2 separate regions of the Homo sapiens genome follow, and region 1 is linked to region 2. The links come from fine-mapping of genetic effects on gene expression. A gene starts in region 2. The other region holds a variant in brackets. All regions are shown on one strand. Distances are from middle to middle. Region 1 has its middle 19 kb from the start of CAPN10. Region 2 holds the start of GPR35 (G protein-coupled receptor 35).

Region 1 (8,125 bases), 21 kb after region 2:
TGAACTAAGTGATGATAAAAATGCAACTTTCCGGTCTTTGTGAGATAAGGTTAGTGTGATGCTTAGAGGAAAATCTGTAGCTCTCAGTGTTCATGTTAGGAAAGAAGAAAGGTCTAAAATCATTACCTAAGATTCCACTTTGAGAATCTAGAAAACAACAACACCAAGAACAAATGAAACCCAAGTAAGCAGAAGAAATAAGAAAGAGTGAAAATTTGATGTACTAGCAGAAAAAAACGAAAATCAATAAAATGGAGATTGGTTATTTGAAAAGAAAAAAAAATTGAGAAAGCTCTGGCTAGATTGATCAAAGAAAAAAAATCCACAAATTACTAATATCAGGAATAAAAGATGAGACATCCCTTCAGACCCTACAGACATCAGAAGAATAATACAAGAATATTAGTAAGAACATCATGAAATTACATTTGACATCTTGATGAAATGGAAAAACATCTACTGAAAGTCACAACTTGCCAAAATTTACACAAGAAAAATAAAATGTAACAAGCTTATATCTATTAAAGTTGTTGAATTCATAATTTGAAGCCTTTCTACAAAGAAAATACCTCACCCAGATGGTGTTACTGATGAATTCCATCAAACACTTAAGAATAAAATAATACCAATCTTAACCACATCAGAAAAAAGGAGAAACACTGGCCAGCTCATTTTCTAAGTCAAGTTTTACCCTGTACCAAAACTGGACAAAGATATTACAAGAAAAGAAAACTACAGGCCAATATCATGCATAAACATAGACATAAAATCCTTAATAAAATATTAGCAAATCAAATCCAGCAATATATAAAACAAATAACACATCATGAAAAAGTATGCAAGAAATAAAAGGTTTATTTTAGCATTAGAACATCAATTAATAGAATAAATGGTAAAATGTATATATTTATCTCAATGGATGCAGAAAAATATTTGACAAAATGCAACATCCATGAATAATAGAAACTCTCGGCAAACTAGAAAGAGAAGAGAACTTCCTCAACGTGATAAAGATCACCTATAGATAAACTATAGGAAACTTCAAGCTGGGCAATGGTAAAAGACCAAACTTTCTCACTATACTCAGAAACAAACGAAGTGGCTCTCACATTTCTATTAAAAACGGTATTGGAGGTCCCAGCCAGAGGAAATAAGGCAAGGGAAAAAAGCAGATAGAAAAGGAAGAAGTAAAATTACCTATGGTCACATGTGACATAATCATGCATGTAGAAAATTCAGCTTGGCACAGTAGCTCAGGCCTGTAATCCCAACATGTGGGGAGGCTGAAGTGAGAAGATCGCTTGAAGATAGGAGTTCAAGACCAGCCCGAGCAACATAGCAAGACCCAATCTCTACAAAACATATAAAAATTAGCCAGGCATGATGGTGCACACCTGTAGTCCTGGCTACTTGGGAAGCTGAGGTGGGAGGATCACTTGAGCCCAGGAGTTTGAGACTACAGTGAGTTAAGATTGCATCACTGTACTCCAGCCTGGGCAACAGAGTGAGCCCCTGTCTCAATTTAAAAACAAAAAAGAGAAGAAGAAGAAGAAAGAAGAAAGAAGAGGAGGAGGAGGAGGAGGAAGAGAAGGAGGAGAAAGAAGAAAAAGAAAATCCTAAGGCAGAAGAAAAAGAAGAGGAGGAAGGCGGGGAGTCGGGAGAAAAAGAAAATCCTAAGGCATTTACCAGAAAAGAACAAAAGAAGCAAAAAACACTATGAACTAATAAATGCATTATCAAGGTTACAGGATACAAGATTAATATACCAAAAAATGCACTTCTATATACTAGCAAAAAACAATTGGAAAATAAAACTAAAGATACAATACCATTTACAAGCATTGGAAAACAAAGTACCTAGGCACAAGTGGGAAACGTATGCTTGAAGTTACAAAATATTGCTGGGAGAAATTAAAGAAGATCCAAATAAATGGACAGGGTTCAGCACAGTGGCCCCAGCCTATAATCCCAGCACTCCGGGAGGCCAAGGTGGGTGGATTGTTGGAGTCCAGGCGTTTGAGACTAGCCTGGGCAACATAGCGAAACCCTGTTTCTACTAAAAAACAAAAATGCAAAAAATTAGCCAGGTGTGGTGATCTGTGCTTGTAGTCCCAGCTACTCGGGAGGCTAAGGTGGGAGAATCACCTGAGCCCAGGAGGTTGAGGCTGCAGTGAGCTGAAATCCTGCCACTGGACTTCAGCCTGGACAAACAGAGTGAGATCCTGTCTCAAAAAAAAAAAAAATTTTTAAAAAATTAAAAATAAGTAAATGGATGGGTATACCACGTTCATAGATTGAAATATGTCAGTCCTCCTCATAGTCATCTATGTGATCAATCCAATCAAGCATTAAGCACCATGCCCCAATGGTTTTGCTTCCTGGGTATATGTCAACACTAGCCTATTCTCCTCTCCATCACCTCCCACCTAACCCAGGACACCACCTTAATGTCTGCAACAACTTTTTAGTTGGTCCTCTACTTCCAATTCATCCTCGAGACTTCAGCCAGAGAAAGATTTCAAACATATGTATGTTAGGCCCTGCTTTAAACTATGTAGTGGCTCCCAATTGCCCAGGAGATAAGACTCAGGCTCCTTAAACAACACTTAAGGCCCCTGCTTACATCTCCAGCCTCAGCTCTTGCCATATTCTCCAAGCCCACTCCCCGCACTGCAGGCACAGAGAGCTTCTTTCAATTCCCTGAGGGTGCCCAGCCCCTTTCCTGCCCTTGGCTGACCCTCAGCTGGTCAAGGAATACCCCCCCTGCCACTCTCACCTGTTCTTCTATGAACCCCCTGTCTGAGTCAATGGATTACCTTTGTGCAGACGGTCCTCCCTAATGGATCATGCATGCCATGGGGGCAGGGGTGAAGGATGTCACGGCCGCATCCACAGCTATCAGCAGTGTGCCTGCCACCCCACACATGTGCTTAGGAGGCCTCAGGATGGAGGGACAGTGGGCAGCAAGATGGTGGAAAGTGATGCGTCCACGCTTTTGATGTCCTCAGAGGGCTTGGAGAAGGAGCAATGAGCCCATGTCAGCTGCAACACAGAGACAGGCACACAATGCCACAGTGCCCGATGTCACGTCCATCCAGGCCCCAGCCCAAGCCTGGCTGCTCCTCCCCTGGCAGATTCATAAAAGGACTGGGTGTCCCAGGCAGCTAAGATGGGCCCAGCCTGAGCCTTGACCTGGGTAAGGGACACTGCATATGCCCGACTAAACCTACTAAACCTGGTGCCATGTTCCCTGGGATCCCTGAGTGAGTGTTGTGGTCCCAGCCCAGATCTGAGGCAGTGCTGTCTATGTGGACACTGGCTATACCTGCTGGGGACTAGAGAGGAATGGCCGGGTTTGGGGGGCAGCACTAACCAGATGGCCTGCAAGCTATGGCCAGAGCCCTGCAGCCATGGTCTGAGCTCCCCAGGATGCTACAGAGAGCCGAGAGCTCCGGAGACTCCCAGGTCAGCCTGCCTGCCAAAGCCTTTCCTCCAAAGCAGAAAAGACCCTTCCCCTGATGAAGCAGCCATGTGCAGGGCTTCACGTTGGGATCAAAAGGCCCCAAATTATCCCCAGGAATAAAATGATTCTTCCACTAGTTTCAAAAGGCAGCAAAACTAGCTTAAGTCTGGCAAAAATTAGGTGAAAACAAACAAACAAAAAAAGCAAAACCAAATGAAGACTCCAAGGGACAGCGAGCAAGGCGCAACCATGAAGAAAGCACGAGCCCAAAGTCCAGGTCTGAACACCTTGGCCCCAGCCTGGCCGGCCGCATCCTGTGTCCTGCCCGGGCAGCCCTGCCCCGACCAGCCCTCTCCCTGACTACCGCTCTCAGGACACAGGATCTCGACACTCACCCCAGAAGCTCTGCTGCCCCCAAGGCTGGCCCAAGCCTGGAGGACTGTGAAAGAGAAGACGGCAGTATCAGGACCGGGTGGGACACGGCTCCCACCAAGGAGTCACCAACTGCTGTGCCTGGAGCTGGAAGTGAC[T/G]AAAGGAAGGAACCCAGGCAGGTGGTGTGGGACAAAGTCCACAGGAAAGGCCAGGAAGGAGGTGCTCTCATGGGACACACCCAGTCCTGCCCGTCCGGATCTGCCAGGGCCACCCTTTGTCCCTTCCCACCATGGTGGGGAGACGGTCTTCAGCCCACATGCCCCACTCTGCAGGCCCACAGTACCGCCAGGGACCCCACAGCCCTGGACCCCATGGAAAGGCCAGGCCCTGCCTTCAAGCATTCCGGAGAGTTCTGGGTGCCTTGCCAGGGCTGGCGTTGGGGAGACAGGATTTTATTTTTCAGGGTGGCTCTCATTTGCTAGGACACAGGCCACTGGGGACCCAGCATTTGTGTAAGAGATGGGCCCTTCTATAGATGACACATTTATGTCCCCGAAATTCACATACTGAAGTCCTCATCCCCAAGGTGAGGAATGAAAAGGTGGGGACCTCTGGTAGGTGATGAGGTCATGAAGGCAGAGGCGTCACGAATGGGATGAGTGCCCACATAAAACGGGCCCCAGGGAGTTCCTTTGCCCTTCCACCACATCAGGACACAGAGAGAAGGTGCTGTCTCTGGACCAGGAAGCAGGTCCTCACCAGGCACCAGGTCTTCCAGTGCCTCAATCTTGGACTTGCAGCCTCCAGAACAAAGAGCAACGCATTTCCACTGTTTACGAGCTGCCCAGGCTATGGTGCTTTGTTACAGCAGCCCAAAGGAACTCAAAGAGGGGCCCCACCAAGGAACTCAGGCAGGTGCAATGCCAGAAGAGCCAGTAAATCTTACAGGGGTGAGGAAACTCTTTGGCTTTCTCTATTTTCACGTAAACCAGCAGCCTTGCGGCAAAACGAGTGGTCAATAGGAGACTGAGTGACTGCTTGGCAGACAGCCAAGAGAGGCCGGAGAGGGCAGGAAGTGCTGGACAGTGGCTCCCAGCTCCAGAGCACCCCTAGAGGCCCCTGGGTGACACAGGCAGGGGAGCCTCACGGAGATCCAGGAGCAGGCATGCTGGAGGTGGTGCTGATTACAAGCTTGCTGATGGTCAGGCAGCGCTATCAGCTCTGAGGCTGAGAGGGGACTGAGGGTTTCTAGATGGCCTTCACCCTCAAGCAGAGCTGTGCGAGGAGCCGATCCAGGCTGGCTGCAGCCGCTGCAGAGTCCACCCCAGCAGACGCTGAGAGAGAAATGTCACTGGGTGGCCTGTGGCCACTGGCCCAGAAAGCAGGAAAAGTCCCACAGTGCCTCACCCCTGCTTGCCTTCCTTCCCTCCTGACACCCCAGGTGTCTCCCCCAAGCCGCCAGGCCAAGGGCGCTTCTCCCCGCAGGTGTTCCCAGGGTTATGGTCTACACAGCCACTGCTGAGAGGGTGCAGCCAGCAAGGAGTAAATACGCTGGCCAGCAGGTGTGAGCCGGGGCGGTAGCCCCAAGGGAAGGCCCATGGCTGGGCTGTGGGCAGCGTTCTTGGGGGCAGCCTTGTCCAGGGATGCCATGGGGTAGTCTGCCTGGGGAGGCTGAGCCAGGCAGGGCACAAAGACCAGGCGTTTCAGCCAGGTGGGGGCACCCCGGCCACCGACACTCCAGGCTTCTCCCTCACCAACCCCACCTCTTCCACCTTCCCTCCGAAATACCTTGCACCCAAATTCTATGTCTGCCTCTGCTTCTGGAGAATCCAACCCCCATTGGAGAAGAGAGTCACTAATTTGGGATTTGGAACTGGGTCACTCACGGCCCACGGGCAATGAGGACCCATCACTGGTCAGGGGAGATAGCTGGCGCCTGGCACAAGGTGGTCGTCCTGTCCAGTCCAGTTGTGAAACTGGTTCCAGTGTCCAGTGGGAAAGTTGGGGAAGGGGGTCTGCTGGGGGCCCCAGCTGCTGTTTGATGAATGAACAGACACGAGGGCCTCCAAGGAGGAAGCAAATAAGGCGCAGGTGGCTGAGGCCTCACTGAGGTGCCCTGGCTGGAGTTTGGAGAAGTTGGGCGGGGCGCAGCACTCCCAGCTCCTGATCAACACCTAGCCAAGGCCAAGGCCCCATCTGGAGAAACCAGGACCGTGGGCAGGGAGGAGGCAGTGCGTGGTGCCTGAAGGTTCCACTCTCCAGCCTCTTAGGAAGCTTCTGAGCCTGCACAGACGCGGCCCACCCCTCGCTCCACCCCCGTCAGGCCCTGGCCCCCCTTGGGTGCTAGGGCTCTGACCGAGTGAAGTGTCAGCAACATCCAGTGACCAGGGAGTGGGCTGCGGGCCCGGCCAGCTCGGGGCACAGGAGGGGGCTGCAGGCCCAGCCAGCTGGGGACGGGAGGCGGGAGCACTGGTAGGACTGGGTGCTGAGGCGCCTGATAGGGAAGCTGGAGACCTAACAGCAGTGTCCCGAGACACAGGTTTGACACCCTGGCAAGGCCCCTGGAGGTGGAGCAAACCTGGAGGTTCCTAGCGGCACAGGCAACACTTCCACTTTTGCTGGGCAGGGTAGAGATGCCACAACTGCTGTGGCTGGTGGAGGGTAGGCGTAGGCGTGTGTGGTGTGAGCTGCCAAGCACTGGTTCCCTGGGAAGACCAAGGTCACACCGCTCACCTGTGCCATGCTGGTTAATAGGGAGTGGCAGCTGTGCCGCAGGAGGCTGGCAGGAGTGGCGGCGGTGCCCCAGGAGCCTGGCGGGAGTGGCGGCGGTGCCCCAGGAGCCTGGAGGGAGTGGGCGGCGGTGCCCCAGGAGCCTGGCGGGAGTGGCCGGCGGTGCCCCAGGAGCCTGGCGGGAGTGGTGGCGGTGCCCCAGGAGCCTGGCGGGAGTGGCAGCGGTGCCACAGGAAGCTGGTGGCAGGAACCACCATCACTGGGTTTGGCTCGCCGGGGGCGGAGGGCATTAGACCTCTAAACAGCAGAGGCCAGGAGACAATCATGAACACGGCTGAAGGGCGCCAAGGGGCCTGCCTGCAGGGCTTACGGAATGGCAGCAGAGCAAGGCAGGGCTGCCAGCGAGGGCAGCGCTCAGGTGGAGCCGGCAGAGGGGTCCAGGAGGGCTGAGGGTGGTCACTCCGATAGAGCCCCAGTTGGGCCCACACTGCCCGAGTCGGTTTTCAGCCCAGGTATCTGCTGACTGAAGAGGTGGCCAGGCCTGCAAGATGAAGGACACTCCCCACATCAGCAAGTGTGCATGACAAGGACCTCCCCGGGGACTATGTGCACCAGGAAGAGAATATCCAGGCATCTGGGAGCCACTGAGCACACAGGCCCCAAGCTGATGCTGGTCCCCAAGAGTCACCAGGGCTCCATGACAGTGGGACACATCACAGGCAGTTAATAATGGAGTCCTGCCCAGGACCAGCTCACATGAGCCCACAGGGCCTACAGACCCACCCGGGGCCATGTCCCGGTCTCTGAGCCTGTGACTGGGATTGACACCTGGGGAGCGACCGATATCTCTGCTGCATCCTTGGGGTAGAGATGGCCGTGGGAAGGCCAAGAGGGACACTGGAAGGCCAAGACTGTCCCCTCCTGCCCGGGTCCCAGAGCAGCCGTGGCATGCGGAGAGAGGGTGGTGGCCCTGCTCTCTCCATTTGGTTCAGTGTGGCCCCGTGGGATGGGATTCCTGGAGGGCCACGTGGCGAGTGCACACACAGCCGAGGGGCAGCCCAGTGCAGCAGGTCCTGGAGGTCCAGGTACCCAGGGTTGGCCATCAACTGGACGAATACGCCACGGAAGATCAGAAGCTGCTCACATTTATATGAAATTTGTATGGAATGGACAAAGGCATTTGCTGTTTCTCCTGGGGCCTCTGCCGGAATACAGGACAGAGACCCCAGCTGGCCGGACACCCTGAAGAGCACCGCACTGATCCATGACCTTGGCAACAGGATGCTGATGGTGTCAGAGCAGGAGGCAGCCAGGGACAAACAACACCAGGCCGGGGCCTTCTGCACCAGAAATGTTTAGGTTGGCTGGGGGTTAGAGCCCTGCCAGACATCCCCTCCAACTGCATCTGGAACCTCCCATCAGAAGGAAGCACAAGGCCTCAGGGCTCTCCGCAGGCTTCGGAGGGAGCGTTTTCCACACCCAGGAACATGGTTCCAGCTGGTAGACCAAATGGCCAAAGCAGCCAGGTCGAGTGGAGCCAATCTACACTGGGGCGATGAT
Region 2 (8,121 bases):
CAGGGAGCCGATGACCAGCACCCAGAGGACCGCGCACACGGCCGCAGCCTGCCTGGGGGACCGCAGCCCGCGGGCACGCAGCGGGTGCCGCACGGCCACATAGCGGTCCACGGCGATGGCCGTGACCAGGCTGATGCTCATGTACCTGTTGGTCAGGTAGATGCCCTGGGAGAGCTGGCACAGCGGCGTGTCTGAGGTGTCTCGCAGGGAGTGCAGCACGAAGGGCAAGGTGCACAGCAGGCAGAGGTCGGCCACCGCCAGGTTGGTCATGTAGATGCGGGTCTCCGTCCACTGCTGCATGCGGCAGCAGAACACCCAGAGCGCCAGGCTGTTGAGCAGCAGGCCTAGCACCAGCAGGACGCCCAAGTAGGCGTAGAAGCCCAGCTTGATCGCTGGGGGCCAGGTGAGGTCGCTGGAGCCACAGGTGTTGTAGGTGCCATTCATGGTCCTGGGGCAGCACAGGGAGCCGGAGGTCAGCAGAGAGTGAGCAGGGGGAGCAAGGCACTGCCCCCACTCTGCCCACCTCTGGGCAGGGATGTGGGAGGAGGTGAGCCCCGACCCCACACCCACAAACACAAAACTCCTCAAAGAAAGCATGGGTGCCGTAAAGAACTCCAAGTCACCCTTGAGGTCTAACCCCTGGACAGATCCTCTTCCCATCTCCTGAGCTCTTCTCTCCTGGGATCTGCCTGCTGTCATGGGGCAGGAAAGGAGGCAGAAGGAGCTCCACGTTCCCCTCCAGTCCCCAGCCCAGCAAGCCCTACCCTCCAGAGCGCAAATCCTGGACAGGGAGCCCAAAGGGCCACCAGCCTTACCCAGCACACAGCTCTTAGCAGGGAGGGCTCAGAGGCAGCAGCACCTGTCAGCCCAAGGACGGGAAGACCAGGCTCCCGGACAAAGCCCAGGGTGGCCCCTCCACCCCTCCTGGCACCCGGCTGCAGGAGGCACCCACATTTGACTCCACACCTGCATCAGCCCTTCCCCACAGCAGAGTCCAGGACAGCTGGGACTCTGGCCTGCCCCTACCTCCCTGTGAGCCCACCCACCCAGTCCTGAGCTCTGGAGGTCCTGCCTGCATCAGCCTGAGGCCCCATCCCAGTCCCACACCTGGGATCAGGGATTCACCCCTTGAGCTCCCAGGGGCCAGAGCCTGTGACGGCAGCCCTGCCCCTTCAGGCCCAGTCGTGCTGCTCAGGGGCCGCCCAGGGGTGGAGCTGAGTATCCTCCTCTCCGTCACTATCAGGACCACCCACAAAGTCACCCCTCCACTGTCCACGCCAGCCTCTCGCTGTCCCCAACACCCTCCGCGACATAGCCCAGGAAGGCTGAGACCAGCCCCGGCTGGACCTGGGCAGGGTCTGGTGTCCAGGACACGGGCTAGAGTCATCCTGACTCGGCCACCCCTGCAGCTGGGCAAACTTGTTTCCTCATCATAAGGGGTGCTGGTGTCACACGCAGGCAGGTGTGAGACGGAGCTGCTGGTGAGCGCCCAGAGTCCAGGACTCACAGCCACACGTCCCACCACCTGGGTTACTCAGTGGGTCCAGGAAGAACCCGGAGGGGTGAGGGCGGGAGAAGCCTCTCCCCCAACCATCAGGCTGTCCTCTGGGGCATCCTGCAGTGGCTTCCTGCTGGGCTGGTATGGAAGGTGGGAAGGACTCAGCCCACAGCGAAGGGCCTTCCTCCTCCCTCTGCCTCCTCCCTCTGCCCAGAGGAGCACAAAAGGTCCCCCAAATCAGGAGGGGAGAGCGCCCAAACCCCGTGACTGCAGCTGCTGGGGACCATTAGTGCTGGGACGCATTTCCCCACGGTGGTCCCCGGGAACTCCAGGTCCCCAGTCCATGAGGGATGGAGGGCACAGGTTTCAGACAGAAACGAAACATTCTGCCCCCTGGCTTCATTCTGTCTCCTTAGATCCCACCTCTGGTGAAGTACAGCAGATATTTGCTGACTTCCAAGTTTCAGGAGCCCTTCCCCCGAGTGCAAAGTGCTGCACGCCCAGTGGTCTCTCTCCTCCCTTCTTGAGGGTCCTGCTTGCTTTCTCTCTGATTCATGAGCAACACTTCACCCTCGTTCCAGGGACTTTTGGAGGGACCCTGAGCCAGGCCAGGCTCCGAGGACATCCCCAGAACCCACTGGAACCAATCGCTGGGATCTTCCCTTCCTGTTGGGCCTATACTCCTGTGGCAGCCCCCGCTGGGGGCCAGGAGATCCCAGAACCTGCTCAGAATCTACACCTCAGAGGCACCTGAGCTGGGCAGGCACTGTGCGTTGGGGAGGGCTCCGTGCGACTGGCCTCCTACTCTCCCCACCTGAGTACTTGAATCCACCAGAAGTCCAGGGCCAGCCTTGGGCGGTGTGCAGACCTGGAGGGGGAGGGGGTCTGCACAGCTAGAGGGCGATTCTTTTGCTGCCCCACCTTGAGTAGAGGCAGCCTGGGACCCTGCCTCGTGGGAGGTGAGGACCCGAGGGCTCGTGTGCCTAGACCCCTTCCCATTGCCCCAGCTTCCCCCATCGCTCCCCATGGCTGCCAAGGGGCTCTCAGGTCACACATACCCAGGGCTGCAACTTTCATACTAGCCTCGGTGTGGCCCAGTATTTTGTGGGGGAATGTTTAACTGCAGGCAGGCACGGTGGCTCATGCCTGTAATCCCAACACTTTGGGAGGCTGAGACAGGAGGATGACTTGAGGCCAGAAGTTTAAGAACAACCTGGGCATCACAGGGAGACCCCGTCTCTACAAAAAAAAAAAAAAAAAAAAAAAAAAAGACAGAAAATTAGCTGGGCTGGTGATGCGTGCTACTCGGGAGGCTGAGGCAGGAAGACGGCTTGAGCCCAGGAGGTTGAGGCTGAAGTGAGCTATGATCCCACCACTGCACTCCAGCCTTAGGAGACAGAGTGAAACCCCATCTCTAAGAAGAAGAAAAAAACTCTAACTACAACATTTAAATTTTCCTGTTTATAATAAAACAAACACTGAACTATTAGGGAGAAAAATGCAAATGTTGCAAGAGTTTCGAGGTGCACGTAGGCTTCGAAGAAGTGCCCTGTTCATGGGTCCTTGTCTCGCCCGTGGAGTGCCTCCCAGAAAAGTTCAGGAAATCAAGGCCCAGGCTTTAGCCCAGATGGCATGGGGCCCCTGGGAGCTAACATGGCCAGCACAGATGCCCACCTACTGCCCCAGTCCCGCACAGGAATCTGTGTCCAGGCCGTGGACCGTAGCTGGCCTCCCGCCTCAGCTCCTCAGGCCTGTCTTCCTCGACAGACACCAGCACCATCAGCCTCAGGGAGCTCCCGCTGCCGGGGACCGTGGGGATGGGGCCCTTCCACTTCCTGCCCAGGAGGCTTTGGGGATTGGAGCCAGCAGCACGCCTCTGAGGCCCCGCTTCCCCTTCTGATGACAAGGTCACCCTCGGCTTCTGCACACAAAAGCAGAAAAGTGCCCTTTGATTCTGCACTGAGTGATCCAGGAGAGAAACCTGGCCATAGACGGGCGATCCAGCCACACCAGAGCCCCTCCCCAGCCCTTCCCCCTGTCTGGACCCGGGACCCGCCCAGACCCCAGAGTGCCTGGCTGGCCTGGGATTGAGACCACAGGCCCCAACCACTGCTGAAGACGTGGGGGCACGCAGTGAGGTGCAGATCCCTGTGGCCCAGGCACCAGAGTCCCCCGTACCTGTGACCCCACTGGGCCTGGGCCCCACACAGCACACCACACCCCAGGACCCAGGATGGGGCTGTGAGTGACACGAGTTCACCAAAGTAGCTGCTCACCTCGGGGCCACAGCACGGGGTATTCTTCATTCTTGTTTTTAAATGTCACATCCCACACTCCAACAAGCTGCTACCCAGACACAGGCTCCAAGTCTTCATCAGCCTCAGCCACCCCTGAGACCCCAACAGCCTCAGCCCACCTGAGACCCCAACACAGCCTCACCTCACTGAGACTCCCCATCACAGCCTCACCCCACTCTGAGACCCCATCACAGCCTCACCCCACTCTGAGACCCCATCAGAGCCTCACCCCACTCTGAGACCCCGTCACAGCCTCACCCCACTCTGAGACCCCGTCACAGCCTCACCCCGCTCTGAGACCCCATCACAGCCTCACCCCGCTCTGAGACCCCCATCACAGCCTCACCCCACTCTGAGACCCCCATCACAGCCTCACCCCACTCTGAGACCCCGTCACAGCCTCACCCCGCTCTGAGACCCCATCACAGCCTCACCCCGCTCTGAGACCCCCATCACAGCCTCACCCCGCTCTGAGACCCCCATCACAGCCTCACCCCGCTCTGAGACCCCGTCACAGCCTCACCCCACTCTGAGACCCCCATCACAGCCTCACCCCACTCTGAGACCCCATCACAGCCTCACCCCACTCTGAGACCCCATCACAGCCTCACCCTGCTCTGAGAACCCATCACAGCCTCACCCTGCTCTGAGAACCCATCACAGCCTCACCCCACTCTGAGACCCCATCAGAGCCTCACCCCACTCTGAGACCCCCATCACAGCCTCACCCCACTCTGAGACACCCATCACAGCCTCACCCCACTCTGAGACACCCATCACAGCCTCACCCCACTCTGAGACCCCATCACAGCCTCACCCTGCTCTGAGACCCCCATCACAGCCTCACCCCGCTCTGAGACCCTGTCACAGCCTCACCTCGCTCTGAGAACCCCCGTCACAGCCTCACCCCACTCTGAGACCCCATCATAGCCTCACCCTGCTCTGAGACCCCATCACAGCCTCACCCCACTCTGAGACCCCCACCATGCCCCTGCCCCGCTGGGAGGCCCCTAGGGCAGTGGGCGGCACTGACCTGCAGGCAGCTTTGGCCTCCCGGGTGGAGTGTGTGACCCCCGCTGCCAAAGCCTGCACAGTGGCTGTCTGAGAAGGGCTGGGGGAAGTGAAGCTGGGGTGAGCCACCCCTCAGGGCTGGTCCCTGACTCTGCCCCTCCTTAAGGTGGGGGGGCGGGCGGCTGACTGACGGCAGCAGGTCAGGGGTAACAGGAGTTCCCCACTGCTCCTGCACCAGCCCCAGCTAGAGGGCGTGGGGGATTTCTGGGAGGGAAGTGGGGTGCCGGCTGCCTGTGCTGACACCTCTGAAGAGCCAGCATCCTTGCTGAGGGCACACATTTGTTCTGGAAACAGCGTGAGAGACAGACAGCAAAACCAGAGACGCTCCAGCCCCGCCCACGGAGCCTTCCTCCTCCCCAGCCCACTTCTGCCCTGTCATCTCGGAAACCTTCCCAGGGCCCAGCCCTCCCAGGGTCTGCGGTCAGCTCGCCCTCCCCAGCGCCTCATGCCCAGCCCCAAGACAGGGTGCAGCACGCACACTCATCCTGGTTCATGCAGACACGCTCCGTGGGCGCCTTCCAATACACACACACACGCTGGCACACATGCACACACACATGCACACGCCAATGCACACAGGTGAGAGGCACACGCAGGCAGGCTGGCTCCTCCCCTGCTTCCCCCCGACTTGGCCACCGGCCCCTCCTCCAAGCCCACCCCCTCAGAAGCCTACCCAGACCACCCCTATCTGGTCTAGAATATTCTCCCTGGCCCCCAACTCCTCAGCGGACATCTTCCTTCTGAGCTCATGGTGGGGGAGCCCGTAGGCCCAGGCTGCGCCCCCATGGTGCAGAGCACCCCCTTCCTGGGCCCTGTCCACCCTGAGGGCAGGAGCCTCGTCTCCTCAACGTGGGCCCCACAGCCCCTGACCACAGCCTCTCCCTCCTCAACGGCTGGGATAGGCTGGGGAGAGCTTCAGTTTCACCCCTCCCCACTTTACAGCGGTGGAAACGGACGCCCAGGGAAGGGAAGCGCTTGGCCCAGCGTCACACAGGTGGTGGCAGGTCTGAGACCAGTGCCTGGGCCTCCTGAGCCAGACCAGGGCTCTCTACCCAGAGGCACGTGAGGAAGCCCTGGCTGGGCATTGGTCCTTCTCTGCTGTCATCCCGGGCCTGGTTCCTGTCCCTTTCTTCCTGCTTCCTCCTGCTGTCCTTCCTGCCCTTCCTCCTGCTTCCCCGGCTGTCCCTCCAGGCCCAGTCCCCAGTGTGCGCCCTTGGGTTCCCTGCCCAGTCTCCATGGGCCATGATGTTCATTGGAGAGGGGCCTCATCCTCGGGCAGGAGGCTCAGATTTGGGATTTCATCCATCCCTCACTCTGGCCACAGGGTCTGGCCTCTGGGGTCAGCAGAAGGCACGGCACCTGATCAGTCCAAGCCCGGCCGCCGTCAAGCAGGGACTGGAGGTGCAGGGCACGGCATCTCCCAGGAGTGCTCCTTCCACCTCTGGCAGATCAGATGGTGCCCCAAGCAGGCCTACCCAGCCCACCAGAGCCAGGGCCCTGCAGAGCTCCCCCACCCCCCCCACCACCAGGCCAGCCATGAACTCCACCGTGCCCCCTCTGCTGGGCATCACTCCTCCCCAGCAGTGGCCTGGGGCACCCCGTCCCCACCAGGCCTGGCCTCCCTGACGTGGCCTGGCACCTGTGCTCCTCACACACTGGAAGGGAAGCCCCACTGGGCAGGGCCACATGGTCCCAGCGGATTCTTCTGGGCTGTGTGGACTTGGGGAAGAAACTGGACATTTAGAGACTCTGACTGTCTCTGGGAAGGGCCCCTTGCCACCAGGTTCCACCTGTGTACAGGAAACGCTGTCCCCAGCCCACCCCCTACCTCTCTCCATCTGCCCCTTGGCTGTCTCCGCAGGCACTTCAGGGCAGTCCCACCCAGCCTGGAGCCTGGGCCCTCGTGCTCTGCCCCCTCCCACTCAGGCAGGCCTTGCCCGGGCCCCTCCAGAGCGCTGTTTCTCTCCTAGCTCCCCGCTCACCCCCAGGGCCCCTCTCTCCCCAAAGCTGCACCCTCACGACCTGTTTGCACCCTCACGACCTGTTTGCGCCCTCACGACCTGTTTGCACCCTCACGACCTGTTTGCGCCCTCACGACCTGTTTGCGCCCTCACGATCTGTTTGCGCCCTCACGACCTGTTTGCGCCCTCACGACCTGTTTGCGCCCTCACGACCTGTTTGCGCCCTCACGACCTGTTTGCGCCCTCACGACCTGTTTGCGCCCTCATGACCTGTTTCCAGCCCTTCACCCTGTTTGATTTTATCACAGAACTTATTTTTTAAGTAACCCTTTCTGCGCACTGGGCTTGTGCTTGTGGGACTCTATCTGCTTCCTGCCCTGTCGGGGCCCTGGCACAGAGCCCGGCCTCTGTGAAGCTCGACGACCGCTCACCCACAGCGACTCCGGCCGCGGGGCTGCGAGTGCCGGGGACATATCAGGTGCTCAGTCGTCGTCGGCGCCCGGCTCAGGCACGGTCGCCTGGGGTCCTCTGCTGCTGCTCAGGCCCTTCTTCGAGGACACCCGGAGTCCCCAGGTTCGAGAGGCCAGATGGCAGGTTTCCAGTCCAGGCCAGGCCTGTTCTCTCCCTGCTGGGCAGCTTCAGACCACCTGGCCCTCTGCGGAGAACTGGCAGCCAGGGTCCTGCTGTGGGCACGGGGGCACTGCCCGGGGCCCTCCGCCCCCAGCCTCTGCTCCTGGGCAGCTTCCTCTCCGAGGCTGCCCCCTCACCCCCAAGGTTAGCCCCCTGCAGCAGCGCCAGCCCCTCCCACTTCACCCCGCTGGGCTGTATGTGTGACGCGAGGAGCTCCGAACAGGATTCCTTCCTGCCCCTCCTCCTGCTTCTCCAGCTAGAGCTGCCGGACGCCACCCCTGCAGCCCTATCTAGGGGAGCCTCTGCAGCAAGCTTGTCCAACACTCGGGCTGCGGGCTTTGAATGTGGCCCAACACAAATTTGTAAACTTTCTTAAAACATTATGAGATTTACGCAGAGACCTTTTTTTGCTCATCAGCTATCGTGAGTGTTAGTGTATTTCATGTTTGGCCCAAGGCAATTCTTCTTATTCCAATGCGGCCCGGGGAAGCCAAAAGATTGGACAGCCCTGCTTTGAAGGGAAGTCTGTGAGGCGATGTCAGGGAAGCAGGAGCCTGGGAGAGCCAGAGAAAAGCCGTTTACGTTCAGCTCCACCTTGAGACCAATGAGGCACATACCTGCCAGCCACAGCCCATGGTCATACGATGTTTACAGCTAAAGCAGC

The links. PIP is the estimated chance that this variant, and not a neighbour inherited with it, causes the effect.
Region 1: its variant is fine-mapped to the expression of GPR35 in kidney cortex (GTEx, PIP 0.91).

The regions. Positions count from the first base shown.
Region 1 is chr2:240,601,304-240,609,428 of GRCh38, reverse strand. It overlaps a transcript of GPR35 not described here. Among named protein-coding and RNA genes, the nearest start is that of CAPN10, 19 kb to the right of the region's middle. The variant T/G (reference allele first, on the strand shown) is at 3,994.
Region 2 is chr2:240,622,276-240,630,396 of GRCh38, reverse strand. GPR35 (G protein-coupled receptor 35) reads right to left here and starts at 4,917. Exons shown (of 2, transcript NM_005301.5): 1 at 4,829-4,917; 2 at 1-448. The coding sequence starts at 444. RefSeq lists a silencer at 1-285 and enhancers at 4,457-4,963, 5,571-5,720.